Regions from separate parts of the Homo sapiens genome. Here region 1 is linked to region 2. Evidence: fine-mapped expression QTL. Tissue or cell type: whole blood. Region 2 holds a variant in brackets; the other region holds the start of a gene. All regions are shown on one strand. Distances are from middle to middle.

Evidence for each region. PIP is the estimated chance that this variant, and not a neighbour inherited with it, causes the effect.
Region 1: it holds the start of EDN1, and the variant in region 2 is fine-mapped to the expression of EDN1 in whole blood (TOPMed, PIP above 0.99).

Annotation. Positions count from the first base shown.
Region 1 is chr6:12,285,550-12,293,883 of GRCh38, forward strand. EDN1 (endothelin 1) reads left to right here and starts at 4,812. Exons shown (of 5, transcript NM_001955.5): 1 at 4,812-5,144; 2 at 6,792-6,960. The coding sequence starts at 5,081. RefSeq lists enhancers at 2,420-2,920, 2,921-3,421, 4,565-4,664, 4,675-4,744.
Region 2 is chr6:12,237,982-12,246,315 of GRCh38, forward strand. It overlaps LOC124901260 (a long non-coding RNA gene), which reads right to left. Exons shown (of 3, transcript XR_007059454.1): 3 at 3,466-3,513. It also overlaps a transcript of EDN1 not described here. Among named protein-coding and RNA genes, the nearest start is that of EDN1, 48 kb to the right of the region's middle. The variant A/G (reference allele first, on the strand shown) is at 4,848.

The sequences.
Region 1 (8,334 bases), 48 kb after region 2:
TAGAAGATACATGTACGAACATTTTTATTTTATTTTATTTAGATGGAGTTTCACTCTTGTTGCCCAGGCTGGAGTGCAGTGGCGCAATCTCGGCTCACCACAACCTCTGCCTCCCGGGTTCAATGATTCTCCTGCCTCAGCCTCTTGAGTAGCTGGGATTACAGGCATGCGCCACCATGCCTGGCTAATTTTGAATTTTTAGTAGACATGGGATTTCTCCATGTTGGTCAGGGTGGTCTCGAACTCCTGACCTCAGGTGATCCACTTGCCTCGGCCTCGGGATTACAAGTGTGAGCCACCATGCCCAGCCAAACATTTTTATTTTTAATAGCTTAATGAATGTATAATGATTAAATGTTTAGCATGTATTAAACTATGATTTCATGTAGTTTTTTTAACCATACCAACCATGATTTCATATGGATTATTTAAGCATACCAACCATAATTTCATGTACATTATTGCTTAAGATAGTAATGATATAAAATTTTCTTAAAATTATTCATGTAAAAGAAACAAGTCAGTTAAAAGGAAAATATTAAGTAAAAATGTACAGGTGGCACCCAAATATGGTAAAAATTGTGAAGCAGTTTAATGAATAACTGAACTTTGGGAAATGCTAGATTAGAGAATTGGAAATACTCTTTTAAATAAACACTTGCTATCTATGATTATCCTATGGATGAGTGTCCAAGAAATAGAGATGCATATGTTGTATGTTTTTAAAATGTACAGGATGAATTTACATTGACCATCATATTTCCTGTGCTAAATCAACCATTATTTTTTGGACTATAGGGAGAAGCTGTGTTTCTTCATAGCTCCTGGAGATGTGTGATGTGTCACAGGCCTAATAACTATATTACACATTTTTTCACAAAAGTGCTACATAGAGTAGAAATGTATAATAGTTACCAACCCAAGACTAAATCAGGCCTAGTGGTGTGGATAGCTTCACTTTGCCTATGATAAAATACTTCCTCATTCTTTGTGTGATTTTCAAGCAACTTAACGACTGTTAGCTTTGCTGAGCTAAATGCAACATCTCATACCAAATTTATTGGCTTGGCAAAGTTACAAATTTTATTACGCAAAAGTTGAGAAAGGAAAGCTGGAGAATGCTAAAAACAGTACAATTTGCTACTGTGTAGTATCTGTATTGGGGGCTCAGCATGTTTTATTTATAGATATCTATTAATACAGAGATACAGAAAGAAATACATAAAAAATAGTTTTATCAAATACTTTCCAGCATTCAAGTGTAGCCTCAAAAGCAAGAATAGGCCAGGAGTGGTGGCTCACGCCTGTAATCACAGCACTGTGGGAGGCCAAGGTAAGAGGATTGCTTGAGGCCAGGATTTCAAGACCAGCCTAGGCAACATAGTGAGATCCCTATCTCTACGAAAAAATTTTAAAACTTAGCTGGGCATGGTGGCTTGAGCCTGTTGTCCCAGCTACTCAGGAGGCTGAAGTAGGAGTGTCACTTGAGCCCAGGAGGTTGAGGCTGCAGTGAGCTATAACTGCACCACTGCACTCCAGCCTTGGAGACAGAGTGAGACCCTGTCCCCAAAAAAATTAAAATTGAGAAAAAAAAAAAAGGCAAGAACAGCCACAGCAAACTTTCTATTGGGGAAAAAAAAAAATCCTCCTCTTTACATCTCTCCCTTCCTTCCCTTCCCTTTCTGAGAGTGACTGTGGCCAAAAGGAGCATTTTCCCCCTGCAGTCCTCTGAGGGGTGGGGTGGGGCTATGAAGCTATCCTTCATATTCACTCCTTTGTCCAGCTCTTTTCACCTCTAGTTCTTCTCCCCGCATCTCTGTCTAGCAGTGCCTTAAGTGGAGGAGGGGTGGGGGCATCAAGCTTGTAAAACTGGTTTGTTGGGGTTCTCCTTCTCCCCTCATTTCTTGATTCTTGGGAAAATGTCTTGCTGGGAGGCTGCCTGGCAGTGCCCTAGCTGCCTTCTGTGGGCTTGAATGGGGCTTCCCTCTGCCCCTACAGGAGGAAAAGGGAGCTGCTGCCAGAGGGAGAAATGGAGAGATGGACAGAGAAGGCAGGTGCCACCCCTCGCCCCTGACACACAAAGAAAAAGACACGGAAATTCTCTCTCTCTCTTCTCTTCTCCTATCTCTCTCTCTCTCCCTCTCTCTCTCTCTCTCTCTCTCTCACACACACACACACACACACACACACACACACACACACACAGGCGCGCGCGCGCGCGCGCAGGCACACGTCTTGCAAATTCAGGATTCAAAGAGACAGGGGCACCATTATATTTGGCACGGTGGGGCCCTTCCAGGTCTGAAATCCTGCATTCTTCCTTACTATTTACTTTCCCCGAGCTCGAGAAGGGCCAGGTGTGGGCGGATGGCTGGCCACGTTTTGTGTTTCCAATTCATATTCACGGGATGACACAGACGGGGCGTGGTGAGTGCTGTTGGAGGCGCTTGGGCAGTTTCATTTTGCCCCACTTCTCCACCTGAAGGCTGGGCGTTGCTGGAACCTGCAGGGGCAGCCTCAGCAAGGTGGGGTGGCGTGGAGTGGGGTGGGAGAAGGGACTCCAGCTGAAGTAGAACCCAGGCTGGACCTGAGAATATTGGGGAGGGCATGGGCGGTGGTTTCCGGGTAGGGGCCTTGAGAACATGTTGGTCCTGACTGTTGTCAGTGTTTGGTCAAAGTTGCCAAAAGGTTAAAAAAAAAAAAGTAGGGGGAGTCCCTGCCAAGACATATTTCCCAGGCCACCTTTCTTCCGCGGGAGTGTTGGGGGGGAGGCGCTGCTTGGAACCTGTGAATGTGACATCAGCTCTCCTCTCCTCTCCCAAGGTCGGCTTTGGAGAGGGAGGTCAGGGCACCCTTGCCTGGCACAGGCGGCAGCGCTGGCTTCCGGCTCAGTGCCGCCTGTCCTCCGGGAGCTGTGGCCTCCCTGGGCCCCGGGGCTAGGCTGAGGTAAGCGCACAGCGGAGGCCAGGGGCCCCGGCAGAGGCCCTGGGGATAGGGTGGAGGCATCTCTGGGTGTGGGTGTGGGTGTGGGTGTGGGAGGGAGAGTTCTTGCCTCTCTCTCTCCCATCTCCAACTCTTGCTTCAGTGGCTCTTTTAGAGGATGCATGTCATTATGGACCTGTCGCTGCCACTGTCCCTGTTCCCCCAGCTGTGACTTCGAGGGAGGTCTGGGGATCTGAGTCTGTCCAAACCCACGGCTTTGCTGTTGGGATAAAAACTGTCCTTTTGATTTTAGAAGGAGGAGGGAAAAAAGGTTTCCCAGCATGTGTGTTGTGCCAGTCTTGGAAATTCATCCGTGCTTGAATTCCACCCTCCATCCCCAGAAAAACTGGAGTAAAACAAAAAGAGGAGATGGACAAAGTGTGTATTTGATGGCATCCCCTGGGAAGAGACTCTAAATTTATCCCATAGGTCTTACTGGGCCACTGTGAGCGCTTTGGTGGAGAACAAACAAAAATTCTGGGTGCTCAGTTGTCTAACCTGAAAAATGGGACTAGCGGAAAAAGCCAATGTGTTCCATGCACCTTTTGCTTTCTTTATTAAGGCATGATGTCACCTGTACAGTAACTGCCCTGTGTGTACTTCAGGGGGGGATTTCAAGGTTAGATAGACAGGAAATTGTTTTGAAAATGTAAACACATTATTAAATGTGAAGTATTATCTGATTCCTTGTTCGAATGGCATTTCCTTCTCAGCACCACCTTCCTTGCATATTCACTTAACCTTGTACAAGAACACCTTTTTGCCCTAAATGAAGACACCCCCCCAAAAAAAAGAGTCCCAGAAAATATGTCCCTGCTTGTGCGGGGAATAAATAGAATATTCTGAGGTGCATTCCTCCTTCCTATGTTAGGCAACATTCCTTGACCCTCCTCGGCCCCCAAGCCAGGTTGCGTTTTTTTCTGCCATTTAGAAGGGTTTTCCTTTTTGTCCTAGTAAAACATCAGCCCCTGTAGCTCTTCATCTCCCCCTGGTGTTCTTCTCCCGCCATGTCTTAAGATTGGTGGCACCGACCAATCTTAAGATTTAAGTTCTGTGTGAAAAACACCTTTGCTTTTCAATCAGTTTATCAGCCTCCTCCGCAGGGGAAGTGTGGACACACAAAAGAACTTATCGGGGCTTCTCATCAGTGATAGGGAAAAGACTGGGCATGTGCCTAAACGAGCTCTGATGTTATTTTTAAGCTCCCTTTCTTGCCAATCCCTCACGGATCTTTCTCCGATAGATGCAAAGAACTTCAGCAAAAAAGACCCGCAGGAAGGGGCTTGAAGAGAAAAGTACGTTGATCTGCCAAAATAGTCTGACCCCCAGTAGTGGGGCAGTGACGAGGGAGAGCATTCCCTTGTTTGACTGAGACTAGAATCGGAGAGACATAAAAGGAAAATGAAGCGAGCAACAATTAAAAAAAATTCCCCGCACACAACAATACAATCTATTTAAACTGTGGCTCATACTTTTCATACCAATGGTATGACTTTTTTTCTGGAGTCCCCTCTTCTGATTCTTGAACTCCGGGGCTGGCAGCTTGCAAAGGGGAAGCGGACTCCAGCACTGCACGGGCAGGTTTAGCAAAGGTCTCTAATGGGTATTTTCTTTTTCTTAGCCCTGCCCCCGAATTGTCAGACGGCGGGCGTCTGCCTCTGAAGTTAGCAGTGATTTCCTTTCGGGCCTGGCCTTATCTCCGGCTGCACGTTGCCTGTTGGTGACTAATAACACAATAACATTGTCTGGGGCTGGAATAAAGTCGGAGCTGTTTACCCCCACTCTAATAGGGGTTCAATATAAAAAGCCGGCAGAGAGCTGTCCAAGTCAGACGCGCCTCTGCATCTGCGCCAGGCGAACGGGTCCTGCGCCTCCTGCAGTCCCAGCTCTCCACCGCCGCGTGCGCCTGCAGACGCTCCGCTCGCTGCCTTCTCTCCTGGCAGGCGCTGCCTTTTCTCCCCGTTAAAAGGGCACTTGGGCTGAAGGATCGCTTTGAGATCTGAGGAACCCGCAGCGCTTTGAGGGACCTGAAGCTGTTTTTCTTCGTTTTCCTTTGGGTTCAGTTTGAACGGGAGGTTTTTGATCCCTTTTTTTCAGAATGGATTATTTGCTCATGATTTTCTCTCTGCTGTTTGTGGCTTGCCAAGGAGCTCCAGAAACAGGTAGGCACGCTCGTTGACTTGTAAGTCTCGGAATTACAAGTTAGTGTGTTCTTATCCACCTTCATGCTTTTCTTGCTTCTATTTTTCCCCGTTCTTTTTATGACTGCAGCTTAGAGAGCAAGTGTCTGAGAATTATTGCTGAAAGCTACTTTAAGTCTTCTAGTGTAAAATGTAAAATTCCTCTATTGAATACAATTAGGTGCAATTGACTATAACATGACATTAAAATAACTTATCGTTTTATTATTATTATTCCATTATGTGTTTCCTTGGCTTTTAAAAAATGAGAAGAGTATGGACATATACAATTTAGTCAAATGTATGTTTGTAATATATGTGTTTATACAGGTACACAGGCCATATAGGAACTTAAATCTTATTTAAACACTATTTTAATAGTGTGTTAACGTGTAAAATATTTAAGCATTCCAGCTTGAAGCCAAGGAATTGTATCCAGTCGTTCAAGCAATGTATGTTCAGTAAAATCACCTGCAGAGCAAAAGTCTGTTGACTAACTACCGCCTCCCCCCCCCCCCGCCACCACCCCCCGCAGGCGGTTTCTGGGTGAAGCAGATGTTTTCTTTAAAATTTGTCATCATTGACTTTAGGTTTCTTTTGGCAGGTTTTTGGCACCCAAAACAGTGTGAGCTCTCTTTTCAGCTTTATTCACCTGTGCTGGGAGGGGAGCTAGGATAATTCTTGGCTGCCGAAGGATTTAGGCAGTGCGTGTGCATCTGCCCGGGTCCCCCCCGTTTTTAGGGTCAGTGCACTTTTTTTGTCTTTTCGTGACCCTGACTAAAGAGAAAGGATGTCAAGGGAATGAAAATCCTGGAATGTGTCTGATCATTTGAAATGTACAAAATTGGGCAGATAAGCTGCATGGCTAAATTGTTAGGAGGAAGAGGCAAGGCAGTAGTGGAGAAGGGGGAGGCAGTGGATCCCACACAAGCCTGATGCCCAGGGATTCGGAATTCAAAATCCCCCCAGCCTACCTTCAGTCCCCTGACCTGCTTCTCAGCCCCACCTTAGGTCACTGGTTTCTATGGAGTTACCCTCCTGAATTGAATATTGAATAGTTAATTTCTCTCTCCAATCATTTTCCCCACCTAATTTTGAAAGATATACATCATCTGGGGTACCCTGTGCCCTACACAGCATGTGAAGTGGATGGGTACCCCCTAAAGAGAGGGTCATCCTGAATGGGGAAGTGGCCCCAAAGCTAGGAATAACTGTGATTTCTTGTCTTTAGTCATGTGCCAATGTTAAGTAAGCTTCAGTGGATAGTGCTGTCCTACCAAGTTCCTTGTAGAAGCCAGCCGGATTTTCAACAGGCAGCATTCCACAGCATTTCCCTGAGCCTGCTTCAAGAGGGGTGGGGGAAGTCCCTTTTCAGGTGTTTATCTCCTCTGCATTTGTGTAATCTCCCTGAAGGTGGATAAGCCAAGGGCATGAGGGGGAGGCAAAAGGTGAACTCATGTTAAGGAGGGAAAAAAATAAAGAGCCCTTTTTTCTGTGTTTCTTGCTGATGGCAGGCTGTGTGCTTCATCTGCTTTTATCTGCTCTGCTAGCTCTGACTCTACTGTGATCCAGCATGTCTCTCGGCGTTTGAGGAGACATCCCCCACTGACCTGCTCTTTCTCTCCCCAGCAGTCTTAGGCGCTGAGCTCAGCGCGGTGGGTGAGAACGGCGGGGAGAAACCCACTCCCAGTCCACCCTGGCGGCTCCGCCGGTCCAAGCGCTGCTCCTGCTCGTCCCTGATGGATAAAGAGTGTGTCTACTTCTGCCACCTGGACATCATTTGGGTCAACACTCCCGAGTAAGTCTCTAGAGGGCATTGTAACCCTAGTCATTCATTAGCGCTGGCTCCACTGGAGCCCAGTTTTAGAGTTTCTTTTCTAGGGACTCTGAAGGTAGTCCTTCTAACACCATCCAAGTGCCTCAGTGGGGACAGTTTCCCTCTATTCCTGAAAATAACGACAGCTTCGTTCTTAGCAACCAAGGGGAGGGTCTTCTGAGGCCCCGTAGCTCAGGCTACTCATGATGGGACAAGCAGGAGGCCACTGCACGTTTCAAATGAGGAACTTTCAGTGAGAGGGCCTCAGGGGGACACTCTCACAGTGGCATCTGATGGGGTTTCGGGAATAATTGCCGAGGTCAGATGTGGGTTAGTGCAACCTGTGCTTCTCATGGGAGGGTGGAGACTGAGAGGCAGAAGTGATGATATAGAGGGTTAGAATCACTTAATTTTACTTACAGAAAAACCTAGGCTCAAAGTGTTGAAGCCATTTGTGCAGGAGTGAGTTTGTAGCAGAGCTAGAACTGGAGCCCGGATTTCCTTTGCTGCTATATTTTCCCTTTAGAAATGCCCATTTCAGAACTGAAATAGAAATACTGTCCATAGGCTTCTCTTTCACCTACAGAGAAGAAAAGCAGATTTCCTCCTTCTGCCCTGGACACTAGTTCATCATCTGTCGGAAGCAGTCATAAACAAGCACACATTTACTATGCATACAATGTACCGTTATGACAAAGGAGGACCAAAATCCAAACAATATCAAACCACACCAAAAACCACAAGGAGCCTAATAATTACTAAGGTGATACTTCCAAAGGGAGGACTTTATTTCTTAGATGAGAATGAAAATGGACACATTGGAAATTATTGGAGAGCCCTCTGGCTATGAGTCCTTCCACAACCATATGGTACCACCGACTGGCAGGAGAAATGTGTGAACATGTGCCTCCTCCTCCCCCAACCACTGGGGTCGGTGGGGTGACGGTGGCACTTTTAGCAGTATCCTCCGTGGTTTGAGTTGAAAATAAGTTTTAAAAATCCTGTGAGTCATGGTTTTGCATTGAAACCTCTTCCCACTGTGTACCCACAAATAGTTAACTAAATAGACCATTAGAAAAGGAAGAAAATATAAAGCAGATGCCAAGCAGAGATGTCCTAATTTTTGACAAAAAAGCAATGTTGCTTGTGTCAAGAAGAAACTGAACTTTGTGAAGAGTTGAAATGGAATTCCACTGAATTAGAAAAACTTGTTTTCTCCTGCCTGGATACATACAGTCAGGGCCATTGATGCACAGGTGTTCCTGGCTGTTGTTACACTTTACCCTCTGAAATGATGCTCCCAAGTGCTATGTGATGAGCTCCTTGTGTGCCCAGTGGAATAGGTGTGTCCATGTG
Region 2 (8,334 bases):
CAATATGGTGAAACCCTGTCTCTACTAAAAACACAAAAAATATTTGTCAGGCCTGTGGCAGGCATCTGTCATCCCAGCTACTCGGGAGGCTGAGGCAAGAGAATCACTTGAACCCGGGAGGCAGAAGTTGCAGTGAGTTGAGATGGCGCCACTGCACTCCAGCCTGGGTGACAGGGCAAGACTCTATCTCAAAAAAAAAAAAAAAAAAAGGGAAACCCAAAATGCAGCAGAAAACCAATTTAAGTCCGTGCTTCTATTTCTTTGTGATTTGGTTTTCGTGGGAGTTTGGGCTTGAGGGGATGTAGGCGTTCCTCTGGGGTGTGATAGCACATTTGTGCCATGATAAGGCCAGTCCCTGTCCCAGTGGAGTCATTTCTCAAGTCCTGCGTCATGGGGAAAGTGAAGGTCTCCCCTGCCCACTCTACTCCCACTCAAGTGGCTGCAGAAGAGGGGGATATTAGGCACCATAGGACAGGAAGAGCCACAGACTCAGTGACCTCTATGCAATGAGGAGGTTGGTCAGAGCGCATTTGTCAGAGAACCAGCTGTGAAATGTATGGAGGCGGAGGGGAAGCACTTTCCAAGGTTAACCAATCCAACCCTTAGACTGCCAGCTGTCCTCGCTTAGAACCACGGCTGATGCAGCTGTGGTTGAAGCATGGACATCTAGTTATCGTAGGAAGAGAGATGGAGAATTCTTCCCTTGCAGTCAATTTGTAAGCTGATGCAAGAAAACCACCATTGTAGCCACAAAATCAAAATCAAAGAGGAAAGTGAAAGAATAGGACCCAGGCAGGCTGTGCAACCAAGCATTTCCTTTAGCTCCTCTTGACCAAAGGCATCCCAATTTCCCAGTGAAGATGAATTAGAAATTACATGAGAACCATACGGTAGATTATTTCTGGATTGGTGTATAAATATATACAGCACTGACGCCAATTGTTTGAAAAACTGCATGTGTTATATCAGTTGGGTGAGTTTAGCTCTTCTCAATGGATCTTTTAGTTATTGGAATAAAATTCCAACTTATAGCAACTTCTTCAGTATAAATTAGGCAGACTTTCAGCAAGTCCTGTGAATACCCAGTTCCTGGCACACAGTGGGCCTCATTACAAGTTGACTGAAGAACCTCAGTTCTGGGTTCTGTGACAATTCTGGGCCCAGAGTTGTCACAGGGCAAATGAGATAAGCAGCATTGCTTGGAGAATGTTGCCTCAATCATTCGTGTTCCTTTCTGGCTGTGATGTATATTACACTCTCCATAGTAATTGTCTGTCTCCATAAACCCATTTAAAAATACACATGTTAACATAATAGGATTGCTAATTATACTTGGATGTTCTTGTTCCTTTTTCTGACTCTATAATAAAGCCTCAAAATGCTAGCTAGGTCATGGCCACCTAAAAGAAATTACATTTTCTTGACCGCCTTCCAGCAGATACGGCCAAGTGACTACACTTTGGTCAATGGATATAAACAAAAGAAATGTGTAAGGCTCCAGGATCTATCTTTTAGGGGTAGGGGTAGGCCCTTCTCCTGCCTCTTTTCTCATCCCTACCTGCAATAACTTAAATATGATGGCTTAAGCTAGAAGAACCATTTTGGACCATAAAGTAAAAATCCTCTGTTGAAAATAGAGGGAACAGGCCTGGTGCAGTGACTCGCACCTCTAATCCCAGCACTTTGGGAGGCTGAGGCAGGAGAATTGCTTGAGCCCAGGAGTTTGAGATCAGCTTGGGCAACATAGGGAGACCTGGTCTCTACAAAAAATACAAAAATTAGCTGGGCATGGTGGTGTGTGCCTGTGGTCCCAGCTATTCAGGAGGCTAAGGCAGGAGAATCACTTGAGCCCAGAAGGCAGAGGTTGTAGTGATCTGAGATTGCAACATGGCACTTCAGCCTGGGTGTCTCAAAAACAGAAAACAAAAAACAAAAACAGAAAAGGAAAAAGAAAGAAAATAGAATAGCATGATAAAAGGAGTGTAGGTTGAGTGAGAGAGAGGATTTGGTGGAACAGAGGTTATAAAGTAAAATAAAAGCAAAGGTATTATGGATAAAATCCATGTTCAGACATCATCATTCTGATTGCTTATAGGCAGAATTGGTAGAATTCAGGTAGGCCAGATGCCATGAAATTTTGTATTGACAAAGAGACCAGCAGTCTAGACTGCAAAAGCCTTTGACCATTCAATACCTAAGGTGACCACCTTTCCCAGACAGCCAGCAGGAAGGCTGTGAAAGCTGTGAAGGCTTTAAGAAAGGCGCGCACTTGGGAGTATTATGAGCTGGGAAACATTTCCTAAAGGGAGAGAAAACCCACAGGCGGCAGTGAATGAAGAAGTTTTGCCCAGTGAGCAGGTGAGAGTCCAGCTGACTCTCATGATTTTGTTTTCTCTTTCTGCCCAGTGGGATCTGATAATATTTAGAGATAAGGAACTATTATGTGATTCTCAGTTTTTAATTTTTCTGAGTGGGAGAAATGTTTGTTTATATAAAGTTTGTCCTGTTCTTATTGGACTTGTAGGTGTGTTGTATTAGGTAACTTACATTTCTATTTTGTAGGGCCCCTGAAAATGAGTAGTTACACTCAGACCTGATAAAGAGCATGGAATAGTACCTGAAAATCCTGGACTTAGAACCAGATGCATGAATTTGGTGGAACTCTGGGATTCTTTATCTGGGAGTACAGGGGTTGAGTACATTTCAAACATGGAAATAAGGGTACACTGAGATACATGGGTGGCCAAAGGGGAGACATAGCTGTCTTTCAATATCTATTATCCCTTAGGTTCTGTGAACCTGAAAGAACCAAGGACTATAAAGAGCAGTGGTGTACAACTCCCAGGAATTGTCTTTAATGGGAGATCATGTGGCTTTATCTTGTCTCTTTTTTGCATCCTGCTGCCTGGAACACAGATGTGATGGCTGGTGTTGATCCTGCTGTGTGCTGAGGGAGATGGAACATCAAGGTAGAAAGCACTGGACCTTCTAAGCATGGTGGAGCCATTATGCCAGCCCTGGATCATTTACATTCAGATGAGTGTGCAAATTTTTATTCCCTTAAAGCCACTTAGATTTTGAATTTTCAGTCACTCTCAGCTGAACCCAATCCTTACTGCTCTTGGAAGACATTTACACTGTGGGAACCTTAGGATGCACTTTTTTTTCTTTTCTTTCTTTCTTTCTTTTTTTTTTTTTTATTGAGATGGAGTCTCACTCTGTCACTCAGGCTGGAGTACAGTGGTGTGATCTTGGCTCACCGCAACCTCTGCCTCCTGGGTTCAAGCGATTCTCCTGCCTCAGCCTCCTGAGTAGCTGTTATTACAGGTGTGCACCCCACACCCGGCTAATTTTTGTATTTTTAGTAGAGACCGGGTTTTGGTTTCTCCATGTTGGCCAGGCTGGTCTTGAACTCCTGACCTCAGGTGATCTGCCCGCCTCAGCCTCCCAAAGTGCTGGGAAGGACACACTTTTATAAGCAGGCATCTTTGGAGATCTTGGTGGGAGAGATGGCTCAAGGAGAGGAAAAGAGGGAGGTATTAGTACAACTGGGTTTTTATAGGCCCAGCACTAGCTTCATAAAAGTTATTTGCAAAAAAAGTACGGGTCTGTGTTTTTGTCTGATGAGGTGGCCCATTGCTCTATGGTAAGTGGAATACATAATTGCTCACCTTTGCTTTTGGAAATTAAATGTATTTAGAATTGAAACCAGCTTATGGTTTTCTTCTCTTACTCATGTTCATAGAAGATGATCCTATGAGTAACACTTTTTTTGGAGACTCAATCATTGTTTCCAGTCTCTTGCATTCTCTAGTAGGTGGTTTATCTTCAGTAACTTTTGCAAATTGCATCAACATACTTGCCTCCTACAAATTTAAACTCAATAAACCAAGGAGAACAAGGGTGTGATGGTGGGAATTTCTTTTGAAAGAGTCAAGCCCATGCTGTGCAGGCTGCACCCATCTTTACTGCATTCCCATAAAAGGCTTGGGGGAAGGAAGTTAAACCATAACCCCGTTAGGTAATAGGCTATGCATTAATGCAATTTATCTGGAATGAGGAAGGAAGAGATTCAGCTTTGAAAGAATTTCCTCAACAGCATATTCCTCTTTGCTGCAAAGCTGTTTCACTTCAGGTGAGACCCAGGAAGCAGCCTGGGAATTCCTTGACCATCGATACCAAAGGCTTTCTGGAGGTGTGCAGTCTCTAGGGATTTGAGGGTGTCGCCCAACAGTCAGTGTGATTTTACAACCAGTTCTCTCTAGGCTAATTTCTAACGCAGGGAATGAGAATGGTCATGCTGAAAAGTGGTAGAGAGATTTGACTCGCCTGATTGCAAGGACCAGGTCTACCACCCAGTAATTGTGTGGACTAGAAGGTGGTGGAGTGAGTAGTGACCTCTGAAGAGTGTGACCTCTCAAGCCAACTGCTTGAGCTCCAATTCTGCCTCTGCTACTTTGTGACTGTGTAGCCCTGGGAAAGTTATTTTACCTCTCTGTGCCTCAGTCATTTCCTCTATAAAATAGGTCTCTATATGGACCTACCTTATAAGGTTGCTGTGAGTGGCACATGCAAATGTGTTTATAAAGTATATCCCATGGTATGTGGCGTAATTTATTTTTTGAGGGGAGATAGTGAGGTGCTAGTTACACACTGGGATGAGGTAGATCCTTGTTTGGATCTCAGCCTTGCTGCTCCCTGGGTAGGTGGCTTTGGATCGCTGCTCACCTTGCCAGGTCCCTCTGGCTCCTCCTTGGCTGAACATGCTTTGACTACACTGACCTTTCTGTTTCTCCAGCCCTCCTCATGGCCTGTATATAATATTTCTTCCAGTTGGAATGCTCTCT[A/G]TTAACCATTATGATTCTCATGAAGGCTGTTTCTGTTCTCCAGGCTGGGTTCAGGTCTCTGTGATATCACTCAAGGAGTTTTGTACCTACCCTCCTGAGCACTTAGAATTATGCTAGAGTATTCATTTGTATAATTACAGTTGACTCTTAGGCAGCTCCAGGGATGGGGGCACCAACTCTCCTTGCAGTCAAAAATCCACAGATAACTTTTGATTCCCCAAAAACTTAACTAGTAATAACCCGCTGTTGACCAGAAACCTTAGTGATAACATAAACAGCCAATTAACACCCATTTTGTATGTTATATGTATTATATACTGTATTCTTATGATAAAGTAAGTTAAGAAAAGAAAATGTTATTTAAAAAATCATAAAGAAGAGAAAATATATTTGCTATTCAGTAAGTGGAAGTGGATCATCTTAAAGGGCTTCATCCGTGATGTCCTCACATTGAGTAAAGAGGAGGAGGAGGAGGAGAGGAGGAGGAGGAGGAGGAGAGGAGGAGGAGGAGGGGCTGGTCTTGATGTCTCAGGGGCGGCAGAGGTGGAAGAGGTGGAGGAGGTGGGAGGGAGGCAGGAGAGGCAGGCACACTGGGGGTAACTATTATTAATGAAAATCCTTGTGCAAGTGGATCTGCACAGTTCAACCCATGTTATTCAAGGGTCAACTGTATTCCTATCTGTACTCAGGACTGTGAGTTCCAAGCATGGTTAACAAGTCCTGTGTCTTTCAACCCAATGTCTATACTGGTGCCTGGCTCAGAGGGGACAAAACAAATACATGAATGCTGAATTAATACATACATACATAAAATGAATGTGAGAAGAATTTCCTTTTCTGATGGTTTTATAAACTATGAGCTACTTGAAGGCAGATTACATTTCATCTATAGTTATATCCCCAAAAGCCTATAGTTAGCAAGAAATTAATGTATTTGTCATGTGGATGAGTAAACTGTACCATAGTGATTCGAATTTAATTCACTAACATATAACATTCTGATTTGAAAATAAATAAAATTACTTTAGAAAAGCTTATGTTGGATATAACCTAATTTATACAAATATTCTTTTTTTATTTGTCAATTGAGAAAGTATTTAGTTACTCGTGATGGAAACTTTCTCTTTTTTTATATTAGAGATGTTATCTCACTGCAGACTATAAGTTAAGACTTGTAGCACAGCCATTCTGATAGATTTTGTTCTCAGAATTCATTTATCCTCTAAAAAGTATTGAGGATCCCAGGAAGCTTTCATTTGTGTGGGTTACATTTACTATATCAAAGAATATATTTACTATATCAAAGAAATATTTTAAAAACATTTAAAATATTTATTTGTTTAAAGCAATAATAAACTCAATACAAATTAAATAAATTAACTAATTTTAATAAAATTAATTATATTTTCCTATGGATCTTTTGCCCATGCATGATTTTGCCAGGTAATGCATCAATCATTTGGAAAATATTAATTCATTGAGTGAATATTTGACCTTTCAAATGTTGGCTATACAATATTTTGAAAAATCACATTTGTTACTATCACTGATCTCATTAGAAAAGTCTTTGAGGCATTGGGAAGCTGTCTGGTTTACACAAGCAGGTACAAGTTTACCAAAATTCAAAGTTTTGCTTGAAGGTTCAAATGTTATTTTCAGCAACGAATAATGTTTGTTATTTTCCTTGAAGTGACAGGCTCTCTATTTAGTCTCAAGAAAAAGTTTGTCAAATAGCCAAGGCTGAATAACAATAGTTTGCAGTCAGTTGTCTTTTAGGGAAAAAATGCTTCCATGCAAAAATAGGCTATTTCAGCCTACAACTCATAGCAAGTGTGTAAGTATTAGAGTATACTGTAAGTGCTTCATGCTCACAATTACTACAAATGTCAACATGGTAAAGAAGGCAAATAACGTCTTAATATTATTTAAAAAATAGTTTTGATCTTATGCTCCTGCAAAAGGATCTTAGAGAAGCCCAGGGGTCCACAGACCACACTTTGAGAGCCGCTGCTCTAGGGTATTCTAACATTAAATTACAAGACTCATTGACCCCACACAGATGAAATTTACAACAATATGGCTTTTAATTAATCAACTTTTCCTGCAACTTCTACCCTATCAGGAACAAATAAGCCAAGAGCAAAATGTTACAAAAGATTGTGATAACTGAGTTTAAGATCAATGTACGAGAACTGTCTTATCAATATCACCCATAATTATTAGTGTAAAGAAGTCACAAAATGTCTTTTAAAAAATTCTACCCTGAAAATATTTCAGAATGTAAGAAGTGGCAATAATTATAATAAGTGGCTACAAACTCCACTTTGAATGCATTTTCAGCAGCTTTTTTCCTAAACATTTATCACGTATTATTTTATTTTAACATGTCTCTGTGATATGGGTACATAGGACTTGATATCATCTCTGTTTTAGAGATGAGGAAACTGAGAAAAAAATGACTAGATTCACCCACCATTGCCTAGGAAACTGGCGGTGGAACTGGGTAGCTCTCCTGATGAATATTTCAATGCCTTTTCTTTTTCACCCTGTGGAATCACTTGGCCAGCCAGACTCAGCAAACACGTTTCATGTCAATAAAAAGAGAATATTCCAATGAGCCCAGTGACTTTGGAAATCCCTAAAGTGGAGTGTTCCAAGTAACTGAAAACCTGGGGGGAAAGAGTGACCTCTGTGAGCTTTTCCAGCTTCCACTTCTGCTGATGGGTGGAAGTTCATAGGAAGGAAGACATTCTCTTAGCCTGGGCTATGTCCCTTGCTAAATTTAGGATTCCAGATTATAGAAACACCCTCAGATGACCAAGCCCTCCACCCCTGATGTTCTGGGAGCTCTCATTCTGAAAGAACAAATGCATTTTTCCTTCCCCTTTGGAACCAGATAGTAAACTTGGCCAAGGAGCCTGCCAGCCACTGGCCTGGTGTGAGTGAGTGGGGTGATTATTTGGAGATTTAGGCAGAAAGTGTTGAAGGGAAAGAGGCTGTGGGTGGGGAGGGACAATCAGCTAAAGAGATGGGAAGTATCATCCTCTTGTCTTGTTAAAGCAGAAAACTGTTTAAAATGTCATGCCCATATTTACTAGCTGTTTATAGGTAACAGAATCTCCTCTGTGTGTCGTCAGTGAGTAATTGCCATAACAATGTTGTATTTACATGACCCATATTTTACCCCACAAAGGCAGAGAAGATCCTTAAAGAAATTGCATATACCTCTATGGTGTGTAGAGAAGAACAGCTGCTTTCCTCCCTCTTCCTACTCATATGGCTCTTGAAAATGCTCTCAGCCTCTTCCTTTAATAATTTCCATCATGTCCTCCTCTGCCCTTTAGATTGTAGCACACGATTTAAATGGAAGGTGCAGGGAAGTGTTTCTGAGTGGTTTGCCTGACTCAAGCCACCTGGTGGGCAAGGGGCAGCATCTGAGAGGCTTCCTTCCACAGCCCGCCTCTTAGGGCCCAAGAGATAACAAGAC